7 linked regions of the Homo sapiens genome follow. The gene in region 6 interacts genetically with the main gene of each other region. Each region holds a gene or a part of one and is shown on either strand. Other genes may lie near its edges. The genes, in order: RAB1A, SEC24A, SLC39A3, RICTOR, TRAPPC12, CAND1 and UBE2J1.

Region 1 (3,500 bases), on a different chromosome or scaffold from region 6:
TTTTTATAAATTTCATCTAACCCACTTTAAGACTAACATCTTAAACTCCACATTTTAAAACTCAAATTAGGCCGGGAACAGTGGCTCACACCTGTAATCCCAGCACTTTGGGAGGCCGAGGCGGGAGGATCACAAGATCAGGAGTTTGAGACCAGCCTGGCCAATAAGGTGAAACTCCGTCTTTACTATAAATACAAAAAATTAGCTGGGCGTGGTGGCGCAGCCTGTAATCCCAGCAACTTCAGAGGCTGAGGCAGGAGAATCACTTGAACCTGGGAGGTGGAGGTTGCAGTGAGCCAAGATCACACCACTACACTCCAGCCTGGGGGACAAAGCGACACCTTGTCTCAAAAAAAAAAAAAAAAAAAAAAAAACTCAAATGAGTTTGGGATACCAGATTTAAAGCTAAGCTTTGTCACTCTCAGATTTTCACATTTTAATATTGATAATGATAGTTAACATTCTCTTTTCTGTTTTCAATCTCCTAAATCAAGTATTCTTAATCTGAGGTTCATGAACAGCCTTGGTGTGAACTGCCTATAACTTTATGCAAAATGTTATATGAGTATATAGACACAAAGGGAGCAGATGCATCAAATGTAACGTGAGTATGGCTACACGACCATAAATGGGTTAAATGTAACAGTCCCAAATCAAGATACCAGAAAATATCTATAAGGAGAGTAGAAAGGACAAAGAGTAATTCCACTTAAGTACTATTATTATACAAAGGAAATACATTCAGAGAAATTAAATCCATCATTGTTCTTGGAAAACATGAATTACATAATTCACTGAGTTTCACTGTTGAAGATCACTAGTTTGAGACGCAGACTGCACAAAATGCCCTATGTAAAGACCATAGATGGCCAAGTGAGGTGGGTCACACCTGTAATCCCAACACTTTGAGAGGCTCAGGCAGGAGGATCACTTGAGCCCAGGTGTTCGAGACCAGCATAGGCAACATAGCGACATCTCATCTCTTAAAAAAAAATTAGCCAGGCATGGTGCCAGTTACTCAGGAGGCTGAGACAGGAGGATCACTAGAGTACAGGAGGTTGAGACTGCAGTGAGCCATGACTGTGCTACCACCACTCCAGCCTGGGAGACAGAGCTAGATCATGTCTCGAAAAAAAAAAAAAAAAAAACCATAGCCACGTGGCTGGCACCGAGTAAGTGCTAAATAGCACCTAGTATTATTAAAAAGTGATGTTTCCAAAAGAATGGTCCCTCTTGTGAATAAAGGCATGCATATTTAACACTACTTGTCCTAATTAGGAAATCTACAAGCATAGAACACAGTAAACTTAACTGGAACCTATCACAACCTTGGATTTAATAAAGCAGTGTAGGGTGTTCCAGCCAATTGAGCCAACCTGTCACAGAAGTACCAAGGAAAACTATTTCCTACTTCTTCTGTACCCTATCTCTCACATGTTTCAGTCAGCCAACAAACTAACACTTAGTTCTCTGGCTCCTCAGGACCATTTTTCCCCTGAATATCATTCCACCATTACCCTATTAATAATCTGCAACACTCCCAGGGTGGTTCCAAAGAAAGGCCAAGACCTAAATTTTCTTCCCTAAATTACATTCCAGATATCAAAGCAGTAATCTCAGCCCCACCTTCTATAGGGAAACAAAGGAATAGTCTAATTGCTCCCCTCTCCCTCTAAAGCGGGGGCCGGGGGGGAGTCTGGGCATTTTGCCTAATTCTCAAAGGAAAATTCCAAAATGTAGTGGCGACAAAGTGGTAAAAAGCTGATAAGCAGCCAAACGTAGTGGCTCACGCCTGTAATCCTAGCACTTTGGGAGACCAAGGCAGGCGGATCACCTGAGGTCAGGAGTTGGAGACCAGCCTGGCCAACATGGTGAAACCCCATCTCTACTAATATAAAAATTAGCTGGCCGTGGTGGTGGACGCCTGTAGTCCCAGTTACTCAGGAGGCTGAGGCAGAAGAAATGCTGGAACCCGGGAGACAGACGTTGCAGTAAGCCAAGATTGTGCCACTGCACTCCAGCCTGGGTGACAGAGCAAGACTCTATCTCAAAAAAAAAAAAAAAAAAAAAAAAAAAAAAGCTGGTAAGCTACACATTTAAAATACCTCATGCACTGGCACACTACACCCATTTTCAGTTTTTCTTCATCTTAAGACACTCAGCCAAGCGTGGGGCTCATGCCTATAATCCCAGCACTTTGGGAAGCTGAGGCAGGTGGATCTCGAGACCAGGAATTTGAGACTAGCCTGGGGCAACATATTGAAATCCCATCCCTACAAAAAATACAAAAAAAAAAAAAAAATTAGCCAGGTGTGGTGGCACGCGCTTGTATTCTCAGCTACTCAGGAGGCTGAGGTGGGAGGATCACTGAAACCCGGCTAGGAGTTGGAGGCTATAGTAAGTTATGATTGCATCACTGCACTGTAGCCTGCGTGACAGAGTAAGACCCTATATCTCAAAAAACAGACACTCAAAGTTGATTAGCAAATTTTTTTTAAATCTCAAAACGTTAAGAAGCATCTTATTTTACCCTAAACATGTTCATATATTAGGAAAGTATATAGCTTGCCACAAAAGAAAGCTATTCTGGCCAGACGTGGTGGCTCACGCCTGTAATCTCAGCACTTTGAGAGGCAGAGGCAGGTGGATCACAAGGTCAGGAGATCATCCTGGCTAACACAGTGAAACCCCATCTCTACTAAAAAATGCAAAAATTTAGCTGGGCCTGGCGGCGGGCACCTGTAGTCCCAGCTAATCGGGAGGCTGAGGCAGGAGAATGGTGTGAGCCCAGGAGGCAGAGCTTGCAGTGAGCCCAGATCACACCACTGCACTCCAGCCTGGGCAACAGAACAAGACTCCGTCTCAGACAAAAAAAAAAAAAAAAAAAAAGCAAGCTCTTCTTTACTATCCAAAATAAAACTGAACTATTCAAACTACAAATAGTGAAACCATCACATAGGTATAGTCAAAACTACCCAGAAGAGAAAACACACACATACACAACACACAGCCAACAGATTGCTATGGAAGGTGAATATAGCAGGATGTTAGCACATACGTAAATTTTTTTTTTTTTTTTTTTGAGACAGAGTCTCGCTCTGTCGCCCAGGCTGGAGTGCAGTGGCGCGATCTCGGCTCACTGCAAGCTCTGCCTCCCGGGTTCAAATGATTCTCCTGCCTCAGCCTCCCAAGTAGCTGGGACTACAGGCGCCTGCCACCACGCCCAGCTAATTTTTTGTATTTTTAGTAGATGGGGTTTCACCGTGTTAGCCAGGATGGTCTCGATCTCCTGACCTCGTGATTCGCCCACCTCGGCCTCCCAAAGTGCTGGGATTACAGGGCACATACATAAATTATTAAGATTGCTTCCAGAATTAAAAAGACCAAGATACCTGAGAAATAAAATTACTCAGAAAGCAAAATTCCCTTTAAAAGCCAAGTAGAAGCCAGGCGCGTGGCTCACACAAGTAATCCCAGCAATTTGGCTGAGGTGGGTGGAT
Region 2 (3,312 bases), on a different chromosome or scaffold from region 6:
ATTCATTTATTCACTTGTTGCTGTATATGCAACAGGAATTCATAATATGATAATGCAGATTCTGTTCTGTCTTCTATCATGTTTTGAAGGAAGTTTGCTTTCATTGGACTCTCATCCCTTAGGAATAAAAGGCAAAAAAATTTAGATAAAATGTAGCAGTAAAATAGACTTGTCAGAAGGCTTTTGATTTCCTCATAACCCTAATAACATTTACTATATAAACAGTTACTTCTAGAGGCTTTCTCTGAGAATACTTGGTTGATTATGTAAATTTCAAGTTGTTTAAGGGAAAAGCTTATGGTGGAATTAAGAGAAATAGTTGATCCAGAAATTCCATTTCTGAATATATATCCAAAGGAATTGAAATCAGTATATCAAAGAGATGTCTGCACTTCCATGATCACTGCAGCATTAATCACAATAGCCACGATATGGAAATAACTGAATGGATTTTTCAAATGTGGTATATATATACAATGGAATTCTACCGAGCCTTTTTTTTTTTTTTGAGATGGAGTTTTACTCTTGTTGCCCAGGCTGGAGTGCAATGGCACGATCCTGGCTCACCACAACCTCCACCTCCTGGGTTCAAGCTATTCTCCTGCCTCAGCCTCCCGAGTAGCTGGGATTACAGGCATGTGCCACCATGCCAGGCTAATTTTGTATTTTTAGTAGAGACGGGGTTTCTCCATGTTGGTCAGGCTGGTCTCGAACTCCCAACCTCAGGTGATCTGCCCGCCTCGACCTCTCAAAGTGCTGGGATTACAGGCATGAGCCACCGCGCCCGGCGACTTCAGCCTTTAAAAAACAGGAAATTCTGTCATTTGTGACATTATGCTGAGTGAAATAAACCAGGCACAGAGAGACAAACACCACACGATCTTACTTATGTGTGGAACCTAAAAAAGTTGAACTCATATAAGTAGAAAGTAGAATTATGGTTATTAGAGGCTAGGAGGCAGGAAGTGGCTATGGAGAAGGAAAGAAGAAATGTTAGTCAAAGGGTACAAAATTTCAGTTAGGATGAATGGATTCTGGTGATCTATTACACAGTATGATGACTATGGTTAATAATGATGTATTGTATATTTTAAAATAGGCAAAATAATGGATTTTAAATGTTCTCACCACAAGGAAACAATAATTGGCTGAGAAGATGAATATGTTAATTAGCCGAATTTGATCATTCCACAATGTATACATGTATCAATAAATTAGTGTACCCCATAAATATATACACTTATTATTAGTCAATTAAAAATGAAAAAAGTTCTGTATTTCCAATCATTGGATATAAGGTATGATTTACTGCTATTTATTGAGAAGAACTCTTTTTCTTTCTTCTTTTTTTTTGCTATACTCTTGTCAGGTCCTGGCAAGGCCAAACAAATTGTTTTACTACTAGCAAATGGAAAATTCAACTTACCTTATTACATAAAGTATTGGGAAAAATGGTCTCTGCTCTCTAAGCCAAGAGATGAAAGCTATTATTCTGGCAGATTCTGGTGTATCAAGTTCTGGAAGGTCTGTCTGTTAACCAAAACCAACAATATCCAATTACTTTAATTACATATCTAATGTATGGTCTATGGTACTTTTCAAATTTTTATTTTTTTAATTACATTTTTTTTCTTTTTTGAGACAAGGCCTCTGTTGACAGGCTGGAGTGCAGTGGCATAATCATGGCTCACTGCAGTCTCAACCTCCAGGCTCCGGTGATCCTCCCACCATAGCCTTCTGAATAGTTGGGACTACAGATGCGTGCCACCATGCCTGGCTAATTTTTATATTTCTTGTAGAGATGGGTTTTGCCATGTTGCCCAGGCTGATTTCGAACTCCTGGGCTCAGGCGATACACCTGCCTCGGCCTCCCGAAGTGCTGGGATTACAGGAGTGAGCCACAGTGCCCGGTCTACTTCTCAAATTTAACTTATTTTTTGAGACAAGGTCTTGCTCTGTTGCCCAGGCTGAAGTGCACTGGTGTGATCATGGCTCACTGTAACCTCCACTGCCTCCTGAGGCTCAAGTGATTCTCTCACCTCAGCCCCACCAAGTAGCTGGAATAAGAGGCGTGTGCCACCTGCCAGGTAATTTTTGTATTTTTAGTAGAGACGAGTATCTCACCACGTTGCTCAGGCTGGTCTTGAACTCCTGGGCTTAAGCAATCTGCCCACCTCGGCCTCCCAAAGTTCTGGGATAACAGGTGTGAGCCACCATGCCTGGTCTTGAATTTTAACATGTATATGAATCACCTGATCATCTTCTTGAACTACAGATAATGATTTAGGAGGTCTGGGGCAGGGTTGTGGTCCTGAGATTTTGCTTTCCTAAAAAATTCCTGCAGTGATGCCAGTGCAACTTGACTTGGGAACACAATTTTCTACGAATATTCTAGAACAGGAGTAGGCAAACTTCTTAAAGGCCCATATAGTAAGTACTTTAGGCTTGCAGATCATTTGGTCTCTGCTGCAACTACTTAACTTTGCCATTGTTTTTTATTTTTTGAGACAGAGTTTCGCTCTTGTTGCCCAGGCTGGAGTGCAATGGCGTGATATTGGCTCACTGCAACCTCTGCCTCCCAGATTCAAGCGATTCGCCTGCCAGAGATTCTCCTGCCTCAGCCTCCAGAGTAGCTGGGAGAGTAGTTGGGATTACAGGTGTGCGCCACCACACCCGGCTAATTTTGTATTTTTAGTAGAGATGGGGGTTTCTCCATGTTGGCCAGGCTGGTCTCGAACTCCTGACCTCAGGTCATTCGCCCACCTCGCCTTGAGACGGGGGTTTCTCCATGTTGGGCAGGCTGGTCTTGAACTCCCGACCTCAGGTGATTCGCCAGCCTCGGCCTCCCAAAGCGCTGAGATTACAGGTGTGAGCCACCACGCCCGGGCAACCTTGCCATTGTTACACCAAAGTAGCCATAAACAATACATAAGTGAACAGGCATGGATGTTCCAATAAAACCTTATTTACAAAAACAAGTAGCAGGTACCCCTTGGGCATAGTTTCTAAGCCCTCATCTAAAAAAACCTCTTAGTTCTTCCCTTCATTTTAGCATGACGTCAAGAATTAATTGATTCGTTCAGTTATTATTAAAAATATAACAATTTCTTACTCATTACCTAAAACGCTTAGTCATCCAGCCCAGTAGTTCTGTTTAAGGCCTGAAAGCCAGTGCTTATCCTAGCTATAATCCTGACACAGCAGTCTTTTATTTATTTATTTTTTGAGACAGGTTCTTGCTCTGTTGCCCAGGCGGGAGTGCAGCAGCATAATCACTGCTCACTTCAGCCTCAACCTCCCAGGTCCTAGCAC
Region 3 (2,497 bases), on a different chromosome or scaffold from region 6:
GGCAATGTCTGGAAACATTTTTTATTTTCACAACTCGGGTAGGGGGAAGGTGCTGACATTCGGGGCTGGATTGTTCTCTGGGACGGGGCCGTCCTGGGCACTGCAGGGTGCTGCTGAGCAGTGTCTCTGGCCTCCACCCACTCCAGGCCAGGAGCACCCCCCATCGTGACAACCACAATGTCCCCAGGCATCGCCCAGTGTTCCCTGGGGGCAGTTCACGCTGGGTGAGCCTCTGCTGCAGCAGAAGGCTGTGTTTCCACGGAGAAGCCACTTAACTCCCTCACTGACCACCGGCTGGAGGCCTCATGCATGCCTCGCTTGAGGACAAGCTCATGAGGAACTCTAGCTACTCCCAAGAGACAGACGTTGATCAGGAGAGATGAGGCAGATGCACGGGAGCTGTGAACCAGGCACCATTTTCCAGGGGTGACTGAGAGCCTGGCCCTGCAGTGGGTGAGGCTGGGGGCTCGGGAGTAGGGACCTCATCCGCCTGACCAGCCCGAGGACAGGAGAACGGCGGGAAAGGTTTGGGTGCCATGAGAAGGCCACTGTGATGAGGGGGAGGGAAGAGCAAGCTCCCCGCAGTCGCCCAGGCCTGCAGTCAGAGGGTGACGGGGGTGACACCATGACCATGGGGGAAAAGGGGGGCTGGCAGTGGCCTCTGCGATGCAGGAGATGTCAGAGATGACCAAGATCTCCATCCTCGCAGTGCAGATGTCAGTCTTCACACACCGCGTAACGAACGAATGCAGACTCAGCCACGCGGAACAGCAGGAATGCGGTGTCTCGGCTCTGAACGGTGGAAATCCAGGTGCGGGCTAGCTGGGCCCTACGCTCCAGGTCTCGCAGGGTGTCATCAGGGCTGAGATCTCACTGACACCCAGGGTCCTCTTCCAAGCTCACTGGAGGTCGGAAGAGTCCACCTCCTGGTGGCTGTGGACTGAGGCCCCGTGTCCTGGCTGGCTGTTGGCGGGGATGGCTCTTGGCACCGAGAGGCTGCCCTCGGGTCCTCGCTTCATGCCCTTCTCCTGGCACACCCTGGCTTTTTGCTTCTCCAAGGCCAGCAGGAGGGTGAGTGGCTCACCTGATTAGGCCAGGCCCACCCCCTCCCTTTTGATGAACTCAGCGCTAACCGATCTGGGGCGGTCATCACAGCTGCAACATCCCCTCTGCTGGGATTCTGACATAATGGCAGGAGTGACACGCACGGCAGTCCCAGCCCTACCCACACTCGAGGGGAGGGAAGAGCATGGGGCGTGCGGAGCAGGGGCTGGAAGCTCAGGGAGCCACCCTGGAACTCTACTCTGCCACACTAACAGGCTCAGATGATTTAATCCCAGACAACAGCCCTTCTCCTCCTTTCTGGACACTAGGCACGAGGAAAAGCAGGGCCAGGGGTTGGGGGATAAGCTTAGGGCTTCCATGCTTTCGTTGGGAGGAAGAACAGGGGGTCCTCATATCTCCACCAAGTATGTAACCAACACAAATTCAATGTCACATCTGGCACTGGCCCAGAGAGAGGAAGCCACTCACCCAGGGTCACCCAGCAAGCATGGCCAGGGCTGGTCACACTGTGGCCTGACAGGGGACCCACACTCTGGGCTGCTGATATGGGGGAGCTCAAGGAACAGGTCAGCAGAGGATGATGCTGTCAGGAGTTGGGGTGGACAGACTCCAAGATGGCCCCAGAAGCCCCTGCCTCTTGACAGCCATACCCTGTGAGGTCCTGGCCACTTGAGTATGGGAAGGACTTGAACTTGCTTCTAACCAGCAGGACACTGGGGCAGAGGGGAAGGGATACCCTGTCACCTCTGCATGACATGGGACTGTGCCCTCTGTCTTACACAGAGTCATGGCCATCTTCTCCATTTGCTGATGAAGGAACTGATCATGCTGGGGAGGTCCACGTGGCCAGGCTCTGAGGGCTGCCCCAGCCAACAGACACTGACAAACAGACACCTTCGGTCTGACAACCAATGAGGAACTGAACCTGGCTTACAACCACATGAGCTTAGAGGCCGACCCATCCCCGGTTGAACGTTGAGATGAGACCACAGCCCAGGAGACACTGTGACTGCTGCCTTGTGAGCTCCTGAAGCAGTGCCCAGACCCCTGACTCACAGAAACTGTGAGATGATAAACGTCTGTAGTCCTAAGGTGCTCAGTTTGCTATAATTTGTTACGCAACAGTAGCTGACTGATATAGGAACCGAAGAGAGGCCATGCTTTCCAGCTTCAGGACAGAGTGTGCCCTACCTAGGTGGGTAGTCTGGTCTGATTATCAGGTGACAACCGACAAGTCCACCTGTTGGGAATCCCAGGTCTGGTCCAAACCCCTTGTTTGGCCGGTAGAGCACAGAGACAGAAAGTAACCAGTTCACAATCACACAGCAAATTCACTTCCTACTTTCCGTCACCCTTACAGCATCAAGGCCTTCACTGAACTTGGCATCAGTGTTGAAAATGCATCAGAGTCCCTTGGCCATAAGGTGCCAAG
Region 4 (3,500 bases), on a different chromosome or scaffold from region 6:
CACTCCCCCTCTCTGCCCCAAGACTTTGCATTTTGTGCTAAATCAACCAAGTAGCAAAATTGAAAGGTATGCTTTTTTTGGCATAAATTATATTTTTGAAATTAAATATTCTATAAAGAAAGTAAAACAAAATGTGCAATTTATGCATGCTGTGGTGCAGCTATCCGATACTTACATTACAAAAATACTCCAAACAGGAAAAAAGTCCACATTCTGTGAGTCATATAAACCTACTAGGAATGAAAAATACCCTGGAACTTGGAACTAAAAGAAGAAAAGAATGCTCCTAGAAAGATTCTCACAGATTTCAGTGTTCTTTGATAAGCACTGCTATTAATTTCACTGGTATGCTTTTAAATGAGATTCTCACTGTAATGACACTCTTGAGATTAAGATAGTAACAGTGTATTTTGTTAATGCAGAGACAATGGAGACTTCCTAACTTACATTTTGGAAAATCTGAAATGTTGGTTCATTCCAAATAGCTCCTCTAACAAAAGTCTCTCAATTTTACCTTTTCTTTTTTCCCCATGTTTTAATGGATTGTGAATCTGAGACAAAAGTGGAAGCATAAGACTAAAGGAGAAAAAACCTTACTTCCAAAGAACATTTCCCAAAGTAGTTTACAAAGTTCATCTCACACAAAATTAGCACCTCACTCTTACCATGCAAAAATAACTGCAGTTATAATTTGAATGACAGACAATTTGGTTTTTATTGCTTAATGATCTGTGCTTTAATGTGGGGATAAAAGGCATCCTCTGAATGGAATAACATTTTATATAAATAGCAGTAGGAAAATGTAAATAAGCATTGATATCCCACTGCTGAACACTTGGCCGTTGTGATATGCCCTGAAAAACTCAGCTTGAATTATCTCAAGCTCTAGATAAAAGAGCTGAAACCCATTAAAGTTGTCATTTCAAAAGGACTTGTACACATTATGTTAATAATGTATATACTTCCAAAGAGCCTCTTTTAATGTCACTGTCATATAGAATGTCCATATTCTACTAATCGTTATTAGAAAAAATTTAATTAGGGAGAACAGACTGTTTCCCCCTTCCAATCTACCTAAGAATAAACAGGAAATAAAAGTATAGGAAATTTTAGAGCATATTTAATTATGAATACTAAATTTCTAATTTCCTTATTTATCAGTATTTACTTAGTATGTGAGGCTGAAATCTGTTCTTGAAAAAAAGTTCAATTAGAAATAACAATTCACTTTACGATTAGAAATTCATAGTTTACAACCAGCACAACTGCCCAGATTCCTCCCAATTATTCAATAATTACCAATAGTACAAATTTATATGGACTAAGATTAATCCTAAAATCTTTAAAAACTACAGTATTGACATTATTTTGGTATTCTATAGTCTGTAATATCTATTATTTATAGATGATTTTCTCAATTATTTCTATTACTGCTGATATCATTCCTAACCTCTTCTGCTATAATTTAATATTTTTAAACACTTAAGTTAATCACTTGGCACTGCATGTATTTTTCACCATAAAGTCTACTTTTTACAAACAAGTACTCAAAGAAAATGTATTAGACCTGTCAGTGAAATCATGGAGAAACCAAATAGCACTATAAATTTAAGCGTAGACTTTTTTTTTTTTTTAGTATACTGATAACCACAAAGCTCTGAGTATCTCCCCAAAGTAAGTGATATAGGCAGATATGATAAGGTATACATACATATTTTTCAAAGTAACAGTAAAAAAAAAAAACAAAAAAAAAAACACAAAACATTCAGGCCAATACTAACTAAGCCTTATTTCAGGATAGATGACCAAGGTGAGGGTACAGGGATAGTGATGGTGGGGGAGGGGGTGTGTGTGTGTGTAAGACAAAAAAAAAATTACTGTTAACTTTTGAGGGATTAAACCACAGATTTTTATACTCTATATTAACTGAGGTAGTGTTTAAAATGAATGTCTAAAATATGTTAATCCCATTATGAATAAGATTACATTACTTCCTTTGGAGGTTTTAACCACTATTTGGTCTAGTAACTCTGACATTTGGTTCTCTGGAAAGGCAGTTTAGTTATCCAAGACCAAAGACCACGATGACAGGCAACGTTCTTAGAAGTACTGTTGACATTTAAATAAACACTTGGGTTCAGTGATAAAGTATAAAAAAATTATTTATCTTCAACTGGATTTTATGAGAGAAAATCTGAAGAACCACTTTTCAACATAAGCAGCAGCTTACAGCCCTTATCTGCTTTGTTATAATGTAAGTTGCTACACAGTGCACATAAGAACAATTCACTGAAGTGCAGTCAAAGAGGTGTTATGAAGTGAGATGAAATGCTTCATCCCAACTGGAACTTTCAGTTCCAGTAAATAAATTTTTTAAAAAAGTATCTCTGTGAGTTATGTTTTCTAGTTCACAGGGTTCTTTACAGAGATCTCAAAGAACAAGCCCATTACAAAAAGGATCTGCATCATGGGAAAATATTAATGTTGCTATGACTGTGTCAAAACTGATGTGTAATTGTAATAAAAATGTTATACACAAATGAATTAAAAAAGAATCCTAATCAGTCCAGCTGGATTTTCTATTTCTATTTATATATAGATCTCAAAAAAGATAATCCTTTCATTTACAAGCATTCAAATGATGGCCATGCTATTTTTATATACAAATTTGCATATATGTTTAATTCCTGTAAAAAGTTCCAAATACCTTTAGACATATACAAATTAAACAAACAAAAACCTTGCCCTCATCAACTTAACTTCACAAATGGATAAAGGCAATTAATATACTCATAAACCCACCTACCACTGCATTTAGTTTGTGCAAAACAAAAACACTGATATAAAAATTAAGTTACTGCTGCTTTAAAATTTGGTACTTAAGGCTTTTCACTACAATTTTTCTCAATAACAAGCTTTATTAATGTTTTTTTTAAGGAAATATGGCTCTTCTTTCCCCATGGAATGTGTAAATTGCAAGCAAACTTATCTTTTCCTCAGGAGATCCAAAGTATTATTTAATGCTTTCCTATCCTTTAGGTCTAAACTAACAGTGCTTGTTCAAGTTCCTGTTTAAAGCGATGAGATGGAAAGTTGATGAAAGTGGAAGTCCATTGCAAATATATGCATTCTATAAATGGGAAATATTTTTAATTAAAATAAAAAATGATTTTTAAATTTTATTCAAGAACTGTAGTGAAAAACCTTAATTGGTTCATATATCCTGTAATAACACATTGCAACAAAATGAAGAGTTGGAAAACAAGAATCTTTATGCAAGTCTAGTAACATAAAAATAACTTATAAGTCCCGGGTTGTTGAGGCTCTTCTTCTGCTTTGAGGTTATAAACCTCTGAAGTAGTGTTACAAACATTAAGAAAAACGTGAAAGGGCCAAAGTTCCCTCTCTAATACCAGCAGTTATAGCACACCCCATTGTGGTAATAGGATGCAGCCTTAGAGACACTGATTCCTGCTTTCCACAAGTTAGTTAACAAACAA
Region 5 (3,186 bases), on a different chromosome or scaffold from region 6:
GAATGTGACAGCGAGCTCTGTTATCATGGCAGCAGCAGAAACTTAACAGAATGCTGTCCTCTGTCTCGATGAGAAACAAGCTGAATGCGCGCGGCTCACCTCCATGAGGAGGGCTGGGGCACCCATCACTATCATACTGAGCAGCCTAGTTAACTCTTAGACTGTCCACGCCAAGCATCTGTCCAGCATTAAAACAAGCCTGCTAACTTCTCAGATGACTGGTGGGGAGATGGTTCTCCATGGGTGTCATGTTTCTGCATGTCTTCCAAGCACAGACAGTGACAAGGCTTTGTTCAAAGCATTTACACAAGGATGCCTGTTTAGAGGACAGCCTTGTAAGCTAAACTGCATCCCTCTGGGGCAAAGGGCAGGCAGGCTCGCCTCCCAGTAGCAAGGATTTGGGTGTTCTAAGTTCAGGATTCCTCTCCAGCCACACAGCCCACTGCAGGCCTCATGAGGCCCTCGGTGAAGACCCTGAGGAATCAGGGCCCCGTGGCTGGTGGGAAGAATGCCACTCTGGCTGTACTGCTGTTGCTGTGTAATAAATAGCCTTCCTCTCTAACGTAGGAATCTTACATTTTTTGCCAGCATCCATGAAAGTGGCAGCTAACTCCACAGCTTGGAAACAGGATAACATCTCAGGCCCTTCACAACTGTTGCTGTTATCCCACAAAAGAAATACCATACGAGGAGGAAGAAAAAACAGAATGAAACAAGAGAAAACACAGGCGTGCACACACACCACACACTGAATGGCATCTGTCCATCGCTGCCCGTCGTCTGCACAGTCCGAAGCCGTTTGAAGTCCACTACTATCGATTTCCCACTTGCGGACTAAAAAGAAACCGAAGGCAGCATGGGCTCCGTGACGCGGCCCTCAGCTCGAACGCCTGCATCTCCTGTCTAACAGGACCGTGTGAGACACTGAACTGAAGATGATTACAGCCCATCATCAAGACCGATCAAGATTAACGTGTGCCGGCGGCCGTGGCAAGCGCTTACAAGCACAGCTCGCCTGACCCTCGCGACAGCCTGGGATGCAGATGCTGTCGCTAGCTTCGCTTTCTAGATGAAGTCGTCGGGCTTGGAAAGATGAGACAATTTTCTGAGGTCACACAGCTAACACAGAACACTGTGGTCAACACCCAGGCTGTCCAACGCCCAGACCGTGTGCTGATCCTCCGCACTGCAAGGCCTCCTGAGGCTGGCATGGGACTTTACTCAATGTCTCAGAGGAAGATAACAGAGAAATCTTGGGATATTCTTTGCTACCCACTGACTTTCCTGATGATTAGAAAGTAACTTGACATTTTCAGAATTATTAAAATGTAATTAGGATACAAAATCCTACCGATTTCTAAAAGTTAGGAGCAACTGAAAAAATTAAACATAAAAATGCAATTAAAAGTATTCCAGAATATGTAGAAAACAAATCAGTAAAAGACACTATTAAAAAGGAAATACAGTGGCTGGGCATGGTGGCTCACACCTGTAATCTCAGCCCTTTGGGAGGCCGAGGTGGGAGGATCGCTGAATTTCAGGAGTTCAAGACCAGACCGGGCAACAAAGTGAGACCTTGTCTCCATTAAAAAAGAAAAGAAAATTAGCCAGGTGTGGCTGTAAGCACCAGGTGTGGCCGTAAGCACTGTGGTCCCCAGCTACATGAGAGGCTAAGGCAGGTGAATCTCTTGAGCCCAGGAGTTCTGCAGTGAATCATACCTGTGCCACTGCACTCCAGCCTGGCAGACAGAGCAAGATCCTGTCTCACAAAGAAAAAGACAAAAAACAGTGTATAAACTAATCCAGAAAAAGGAAGCATAAACAGAAATGTAAAAGTAGAAATAGCTACAGGCAGAACAAGGAAATGGAAATAATGGTAAGAGCACTGTCTTTTACTCTGTGCGAATCCACGAGAAAACAGGGACCAAACAGGTGGCTTTCTAGAAAACTCTCAGTTACCAAAATGGTTCCCAGAAACACAGAAAAATCCTCAGGCACACAACACTAAGGCAGATTCATAATAATAAATTAGGAAAAGCACACAGCACACCTCATGTGCTCAGCAAAGGCAATTCTTAGGTGAATACTCAAACCTTCAGGGAATAGATCATTCCACATTACTCAAGTTTTCCAGAGAGAGAGAAAGCAAGCTTCTAACTTATATGAAGACAGAAAACAGCCACCATATCCTTTTGAGATGTCACCTGTGCACACGCAAACCAGATACTAACATCACTTATAAACGCAGAAACCCGGGGAAACGCCGCCCTGGAGCTCCGACCTTAAGAGCAACACATGGTCAGTGTTTCCGTGGCAGAAACTGGAACTGTGCGCTGGGTCTGGCCCTCCCCTCCTTGGGCGCTGTCAAGGTTAATACTGAGTGTCAATTTAATTGAAGGATGCAAAGTATTGATCCTGGGTGTGTCTGTGAGGGTGTTGCCAAAGGAGATGAACACTTGAGTCAGTGGGCTGGGGGAGGCCGACCCGCCCTTAATCTGGGTAGGCACCATCTCTTCAGCTGCCATCACAGCCAGAATAAAGCAGGCAGAAGTTGGAAAGAGCAGACTTGCCGAGGTTCTGGGACTTGGACTGGCTTCCTTGCTCCTCAGCTATTGTGGGACCTCACCTTGTGATCGAGAGTCAATTCTCCTAATAAACTCCCCTTCATAGATTCATCTATTCTATGAGTCCTGTCCCTCTAGAGAGCCCCAACTAATACAGGCACTGAGGGGTGGGGGAGAGCTCCAGTTCTCAGCTCCTTCACCTGCTTCTCTGTCACAGTTTTGGGATTCCTCATCACCTTGGTGGCACGGAAGCCATTACAGATGGGCAATGGCCATTTTAAAGTGTTCTCAAGGCGGAGTGTCCTGCAGTCCATGGCTGTGAGCTGTTGACTGGAGAGGAAGGCAAGAATGATTCTTCTCTGTGGTGTGGGAGTCAGATGATTTTAAACCATCCAAAGACAGAACAGCTATGTTAACAGCCACATAGGTTGCTAGATGATATTAAATCTGTAGTCAGCTAGAAAACCCAGTTCTTTTCATATTTACCACTGATCAACTTTAGTCACAGAAGCATAGGTCTGCAATTGATACAGAAAACTCATTTCAGCTGGGCCCAGTGGCTCATGCCTGTAATCCCAGCACTTTGGGAGGCAGAGGCAGGAGGATTGCTTGAGGCCAGGAG
Region 6 (3,500 bases):
AACAGGTCCTTTTCTTACTTTCCATTTGCTGTTAGAAGGAATCAACCTCACTTCAAATGTAGCTACAAGCAGCAGGGGTATGATTAAAAGACATCTGCTCTAAACTTCCTAATGTTTTGCTAGTCAGTAAAACAAACAGGGTCTCTACTAACAAATCTTACGGATGCAAAGCTATCAACGGAGCTTCTAGAATACCTCAACAGCAAAGCAAGTACAGAGTAAAAACAAAAAGCCAAGAAAAATCCCAACAACCAAACTACATGGACACATACCCTAATTACACAATGATCTAAGAACTAGACAAAACAAAAAAAATGTCTGACTTTCCATAGCATTGTCAGAATTCCTGGCAACTCTACTGAGCAATACCTGACTTCTATATACTCACTCACTTGCATATGTCCTCCATACACTTTATCTCATTTCCTTCTACAATTAATCTTCAACATTCACCTTTATGAGTAAGTTCACCACAAAAATGTATTTATTTGTACTACTTAAAAACAAGATAGATACAGTATGTGTGTCCCGTCCTCTCCACTGGTTTAATCCCTGGCAATATCTGTTTTGTAATCTATAAAAATTGACCTACTATTTGTGCATCCCATAGGGCTGCTGTAGAGATTACATATAAGATAGGAGAATGCCTGGTATGTAATAAATATTCAATAAATGGGAGCATATAATAGCTCTAATGTTTAGGATCTTAGAAAACAAATGCCCTCAAGTGAAAAAATGTGTATTTTATTAGTAAGTACTGGCATATATCAAGCATATATGTAGTAGGCACTACACTGAATGCTCTACACAGATCACCCAGCTCTCACAACCACAGGTAGATATTTCTAAGTACGTTCTTATTACAAATAAGAAAAGTGAGGTTTAATAAAATGACTAAATAACTTGCCCAAGATCACACACCTAAATTAGAAATGAAGTCAGTTATGTGATCGCAAGTAGTATGACTCCACAGCTCTAAGACTTCTCTATTAACATCAAAGATAAAGACTACTTTACTGAATCTTAAAATTATTTAAATATTGTTTATCATGTAAAGCCAAGAATAATTCAATTAGAATAGTTTACAACTAACATAATATGAACATGCATTAACTATATAAACATATCCTAGAACTTTCTGCTTCTCTATAGATATTCTGGAACTCACCTTTCCATATAAAGACAATTTTAAAAGCATTGCATTTACTATCATGATTTTCTAAACTTTACTTTAAAACCCACCTGACTCTGAAGCATTGTTAAAGGTGTTTCTCCCTGCTCCATTGCATCAGGGTCACATAGCCAACTTTGTACAGGACGAGTTTGCTTCAAAAGAGAAAGGTATGCGTGAAAAACATCTGCCTTTACATTCTCTTCACGCTCTTTAAATCTGGATATTAGTGCAGGAGAGACGGTCTTGTAGAATTCTGGAAGCATTTCATGCCTTGTGCTAACTACAGCATCCAAGCACTTCGCAGCTGCACGTCTCACTTTCCAACTCATGTCATCATCATCACTGTATTCATCATCACTCCCTAAGGGTAAGTTTTAATGTAAACAGGCTATTAATGACAAGAGAAGTATATCATTTAAAACAGAAAATCAATTGATATTCTTAACCAAATCAGTTAATCTAACTTTCCGGTAACATATACAGCAACAGGTAGGTTTCAACAGAACTAGAACTTGAACAAAGAGCTTGTTATTTCTGTAAATCTGCACATAAATTAAACTTAAAAAACAAACATAATGGTATTTTTAATTAGTTAAACATTTTCTCATTTACTTTGTAATGAACTGCTGCTTATTTTAACCCTTTAAAATCATCAATTAACACATTCAACTTCTTTAGAATATAAATATTTATAGTCATAAATTTCCCAGCCTTTGAAACAAAATTCAAAGAACTTACTTAACAGCATAGGAAAAATCAAGCAAACAATCAGGGACTTTATAAGACAAACCATGAAATGGATTTGTGGTAATAGAGTAGGTGATAAAAAGAATGGTTACCAATCCCAAAACACTGTAGAACTAATTTGCTGGGAATAAAAAGAAGGTTGACATCAGCTTTGTGACTACAAGGCTTTTCACTCAACTTGTTGATAAGCTGTGAGGAACAAATATGTATATTCTAAACCTTTCACAATTTTGTCTTAATGTACTTTAACAAAACCATTTTTGCTTAATTATACCAAGAAAATGCTGCACACTTAACAGAGGACCATTTTTTCCCCTAATGCTAAACCTTAAACATTCAAAGCAAAAGCACTAAGAATTGTATCTCACTTATCTATACTTGATGGATAACATGTGTGTGAAATCTCCAGAAAATCTTTCTTTCTAACACCATCAGGTTTAATTAGTTGGGTAATATGAAGTCAGAAAGGTGGCAGAAATATTAGCAGTTATCATGATAGTCTAAAATTATCTCACAATAATTTCTTTATTCTTAGATAAGACTATACATAGCCTTGAAATAATAGAGCGGAGTAGTAACTTTTTACTGGCTTTTATTCCAATTAGCTTAGTTTGACAGTCAAATGTAGCCAGCTAGGCCTTAGAAGATTCTACAGTATACAACAAAATAATAAAATTTTCCAACTCAAAAGCTTAAAATTCACCTTAGCACATTACAGGAAAATACAACCAAATACTGCTAAATGCAAGACGTTTGCTTATTTACCAATATCTATTCAAATAAAGTTAAAAGATACTGCCAAAATACACTATCAAGTTAAGAGCACATAAAATTTTTTCCATGTCAATACACTATGGCAATTGCCTCCCAGAAATATAAGCTTTATTAAAAACAAGATTATAAAAAATTAACAAATGTCCTTATTCACTAAAATTACGTTGATTTTATAAATCACAAAAACACCATGGTAGAAAAGTCATTTAATGGGTATAATTCATACTAAGTGATAAAGCAGGTGAAGTACCTAGTTTGTTATACAGCACACAAAAAAACAAAATTCAAAACCTGGAATATACATTGCTACTGCTTTCTTCAAAAGATATTCATATTAAAATATAAGCTAAAGTTTCCCTTCATTAATACAACCCATTTATTGATTGCCTGTGTGTCAAGTACTGTCCTAGGCACTGGAATAAAGCAGTCAATCAAGAGATTAAAACATCTAGCCTTCATGAAACTTATATTCTAATAGGTAGGAGACCATCAATTACAGTATGTCAGAAAGTTACTAAGTGTGATAAACAAAATAAAAACAATAAAATGAAAGATAGTTCTGAGGTGGAAGACTAGCTGAGGGATGTGTGAAAAAGGAATCAGGTATGACTGCAAGGTTTTTGGCCTGATCAACTAAGAAGAATAGAGGTACCATTCTGAGATGGAAAAGGCTAAAGAAGAACAGGTTAGGTGGGAGATGGGGAAGGGGCAGGGAAAAGATATTTTAGATATCCAAGCAGCAATATTAATTAAGCAGTTGCATATGAATCTGGATTCACAAGTGAGATCTGGATTAAAGATAGGA
Region 7 (2,598 bases), on a different chromosome or scaffold from region 6:
ATTTTATAGTTTTAACTCTTACATTTAGGCCTTTGATCCATTTTGAGTTAATTTTCTTATATGGTGTATGAGGTAGTGGATGGTATAACTTTATTTACTCATTTTTCTCAGGGCAGGGTATAGCCCCAGTGGATCGAGGTCAGAGCTGTGGGAAGGCCCCAAAGGCATTTGCTGAGGTCTGATTATGCCAGACACCTAGGTGGGACTCTAGTCATGCACAGCCTTGTGCTTTATGTTAAGGGTTTCACCCTATCTAAGAGCAACAGGAGAGAAGAGATCAGGTCTGTATATTGAAAACTCTGGCTGCAATGTAAGGAATGGGGTGAGACTAGAGACCTGTTAGGAGGTTACTGCACCAATTTGGAGGAGTTAATAGCTAAATAGGATATAGTGCCTAGTTAGGGAAGTGGAAAGATGAGAGAGAAATATTCTAGGAGGTAGAATGGATGAGAGACAAGACTGGATGATGTAAAGAATACAACCTTTGGTCAAAAACAAGGTATGAGTAAAGTCACTGGTTTTATTGAGCAGCTCAAACTAGTTCTGAAGGCAACTGTTCAGAAGGCGTTCCCAACAGCTTTTGAGCAATGCACAGCCTCCCATAAAACCTTAAAAAGTACATCTGTTAATGTGCACATTAGTCTTTGTTAGTCACGTTCACTAAATGCATTAACCTTACATATACTTCCAATTAAAAAAACACATAGGCTTTTCAGTATTTTGGCCTAGATTTTTGTTCAAATGAGTCCAAATGTGTGAGTGAGGTTTACCTGTTTTCTGATTCTGATCTATAAAAATGGGTGGTCTCAAAAGACCAGAAAGTTTATTCATAGCCAAAAATGACAAAAAGAGTTCTTATTCTCCCAAAATAGGAAATTTTGTATTCCTATAGTCAAAACAATAAACAATTTTTGAAATTAAAAAAGTTGAGAATCTTGAAATTCATTTTTTTCAGTAGAATAAAACAATAAGCAGCATGAAAACGTAAAGTGCTACATAAAAGCCCCACATTACATAAATTTTGAAAAGTTTATTGGCTTAAACAGTTACAGGTGAAACAGATTACGTATTTTTTTTTCAAGCATGCTATTTTAATTACCTTGATATCTCATCATGTGCTATGTTGGTCAAATAAAATGTCATGAGTTATCTAGATCTGAGGATTAAAGAGGAGTCCTCAGCCTTTACTTGCCAGAATATACATCCAGTTTTAGCTGTATGCTGGAATTAAGGAGTTAAAGTAGGGCTTTAAAGATAATAGTTTTCTGAAGAGGCCTTTCAGTGGGGCTTGGACAAAAAGGGCCCCAAAGACCAATTTTGCTCATTAACCTCACACTGGGGATCAGATTGACAACTTAAGGATTTTTAGGGAGCATATGTGAGATCAAAGGGAAGAAGAAAATGGTGCCCCTTTCAGATGGTGCTTCAGGTGCTAAAAAATATCCCAACACAAACAAGCAGGTGGCTAGCTGACAGGTGGGGGAAGAGATGCAAGTCAGATAGCAAAGGATCTGCACAGTGCAAAATCTTCTTGGCTTTTTATTTAACTTAGCAGTGAATGCAGCAGGATTGGCTTAAAGTATAGGTACACCCCATGGAAACATGCAATAAGATCACATCGATCCAGAGGCTGGCTCAAGTTTGACTGAGGGGAAACGGAGGGAAGGCTGTTCCTAGCACACAATCTCAGCAGAGGTTGAGGTGGTGGGGATTTCTTTCTTCTCATATGACGCTACCGTCGGTGACTTCTTACTAGGAGACCACTGAGCACTGAATCAAGGTTTCTAATATGTTTCAAATCAAGATTTTAGAGTGTATTTTCTTATGGCAATAGAGTTATAAAATGGTAACCTATGATTTTCCTCATATAATGAGATCTTCATAAAGTCCTTGAGCTTTTTAGACTTTAACAAATTCAGCTACAGATATAAAAAATAATCTGTAAACACCTTTAAAATGCGAATTTATTAAAGTTTAAGACAATTCTGTATTATATAATAGTGTACAATATGTTCTTATTTTAGATGTAGAAATAAAGGAAAACTGGCTCTCAGATGAAAACAGAAATTGTGTCTGACAGTTAATAGAACGAATGTCCCATAAACAGGAGTAAAAATTAAATTTTCCTTTAAGACGATTTTACAATTATTTCTCTTGTCCATAATTTCACTTAGTTAAAACCACATAAGGACTTTATGAATACCCTCCCCTATACTATTCAAGATATACATATGGGCTAACTTTCGTGGACCGATCTAGAACCTAAATACCACTTCCAACATTGTTTGACTTGTAAAAAAATTAACTTACAAATAACACTTTTGGAGCATAACCTATTTGAAAGCTTGGAACCACCTGTATTTAAAAATTAAATCTTCATTAACAACACCCTCAAGAGTGCCCTCAGTGCTGCGAACTGAACATGCTGAAGGCAATGTTTTTCTGTGATTATATGGTTTCACCAGCCATTATGATGATAATATTATCTACTAGAGTCTGTGGCGCTAGCTAGCACTAAGTTATATATTGATTTTTCCACTGAAAATTCTTTCTTGGGCTCTGACTAGGTGGACAATTCTAAGTAAAGGTTTTTCTAAC

What was found.
Region 1: changes in CAND1 (region 6) and RAB1A together harm fitness more than expected from each alone (negative genetic interaction), as found in Homo sapiens cells (one large-scale study listed by BioGRID).
Region 2: changes in CAND1 (region 6) and SEC24A together harm fitness more than expected from each alone (negative genetic interaction), as found in Homo sapiens cells (one large-scale study listed by BioGRID).
Region 3: changes in CAND1 (region 6) and SLC39A3 together harm fitness less than expected from each alone (positive genetic interaction), as found in Homo sapiens cells (one large-scale study listed by BioGRID).
Region 4: changes in CAND1 (region 6) and RICTOR together harm fitness less than expected from each alone (positive genetic interaction), as found in Homo sapiens cells (one large-scale study listed by BioGRID).
Region 5: changes in CAND1 (region 6) and TRAPPC12 together harm fitness more than expected from each alone (negative genetic interaction), as found in Homo sapiens cells (one large-scale study listed by BioGRID).
Region 7: changes in CAND1 (region 6) and UBE2J1 together harm fitness less than expected from each alone (positive genetic interaction), as found in Homo sapiens cells (one large-scale study listed by BioGRID).

What each region holds. Positions count from the first base shown.
Region 1 is NC_000002.12:65,120,107-65,123,606, forward strand, and holds part of RAB1A (ras-related protein Rab-1A), read right to left. Parts: intron 1-3,500. UniProt on the Homo sapiens protein: The small GTPases Rab are key regulators of intracellular membrane trafficking, from the formation of transport vesicles to their fusion with membranes.
Region 2 is NC_000005.10:134,721,785-134,725,096, reverse strand, and holds part of SEC24A (protein transport protein Sec24A), read right to left. Parts: intron 1,531-3,312; coding exon 1,427-1,530; intron 118-1,426; coding exon 3-117; 3' UTR 1-2. UniProt on the Homo sapiens protein: Component of the coat protein complex II (COPII) which promotes the formation of transport vesicles from the endoplasmic reticulum (ER).
Region 3 is NC_000019.10:2,734,521-2,737,017, forward strand, and holds part of SLC39A3 (zinc transporter ZIP3), read right to left. Parts: coding exon of another isoform or gene 2,420-2,497; exon of another isoform or gene 6-2,419; intron 1-5. UniProt on the Homo sapiens protein: Transporter for the divalent cation Zn(2+). Mediates the influx of Zn(2+) into cells from extracellular space. Controls Zn(2+) accumulation into dentate gyrus granule cells in the hippocampus.
Region 4 is NC_000005.10:38,938,400-38,941,899, forward strand, and holds part of RICTOR (rapamycin-insensitive companion of mTOR), read right to left. Parts: 3' UTR 1-3,500. UniProt on the Homo sapiens protein: Component of the mechanistic target of rapamycin complex 2 (mTORC2), which transduces signals from growth factors to pathways involved in proliferation, cytoskeletal organization, lipogenesis and anabolic output.
Region 5 is NC_000002.12:3,473,694-3,476,879, reverse strand, and holds part of TRAPPC12 (trafficking protein particle complex subunit 12), read right to left. Parts: intron 1-3,186. UniProt on the Homo sapiens protein: Component of the TRAPP complex, which is involved in endoplasmic reticulum to Golgi apparatus trafficking at a very early stage.
Region 6 is NC_000012.12:67,300,358-67,303,857, reverse strand, and holds part of CAND1 (cullin-associated NEDD8-dissociated protein 1), read right to left. Parts: intron 1,536-3,500; coding exon 1,243-1,535; intron 1-1,242. UniProt on the Homo sapiens protein: Key assembly factor of SCF (SKP1-CUL1-F-box protein) E3 ubiquitin ligase complexes that promotes the exchange of the substrate-recognition F-box subunit in SCF complexes, thereby playing a key role in the cellular repertoire of SCF complexes.
Region 7 is NC_000006.12:89,326,125-89,328,722, forward strand, and holds the end of UBE2J1 (ubiquitin-conjugating enzyme E2 J1), read right to left. Parts: 3' UTR 501-2,598; downstream 1-500. UniProt on the Homo sapiens protein: Catalyzes the covalent attachment of ubiquitin to other proteins. Functions in the selective degradation of misfolded membrane proteins from the endoplasmic reticulum (ERAD) and is essential for cells to recover from ER stress.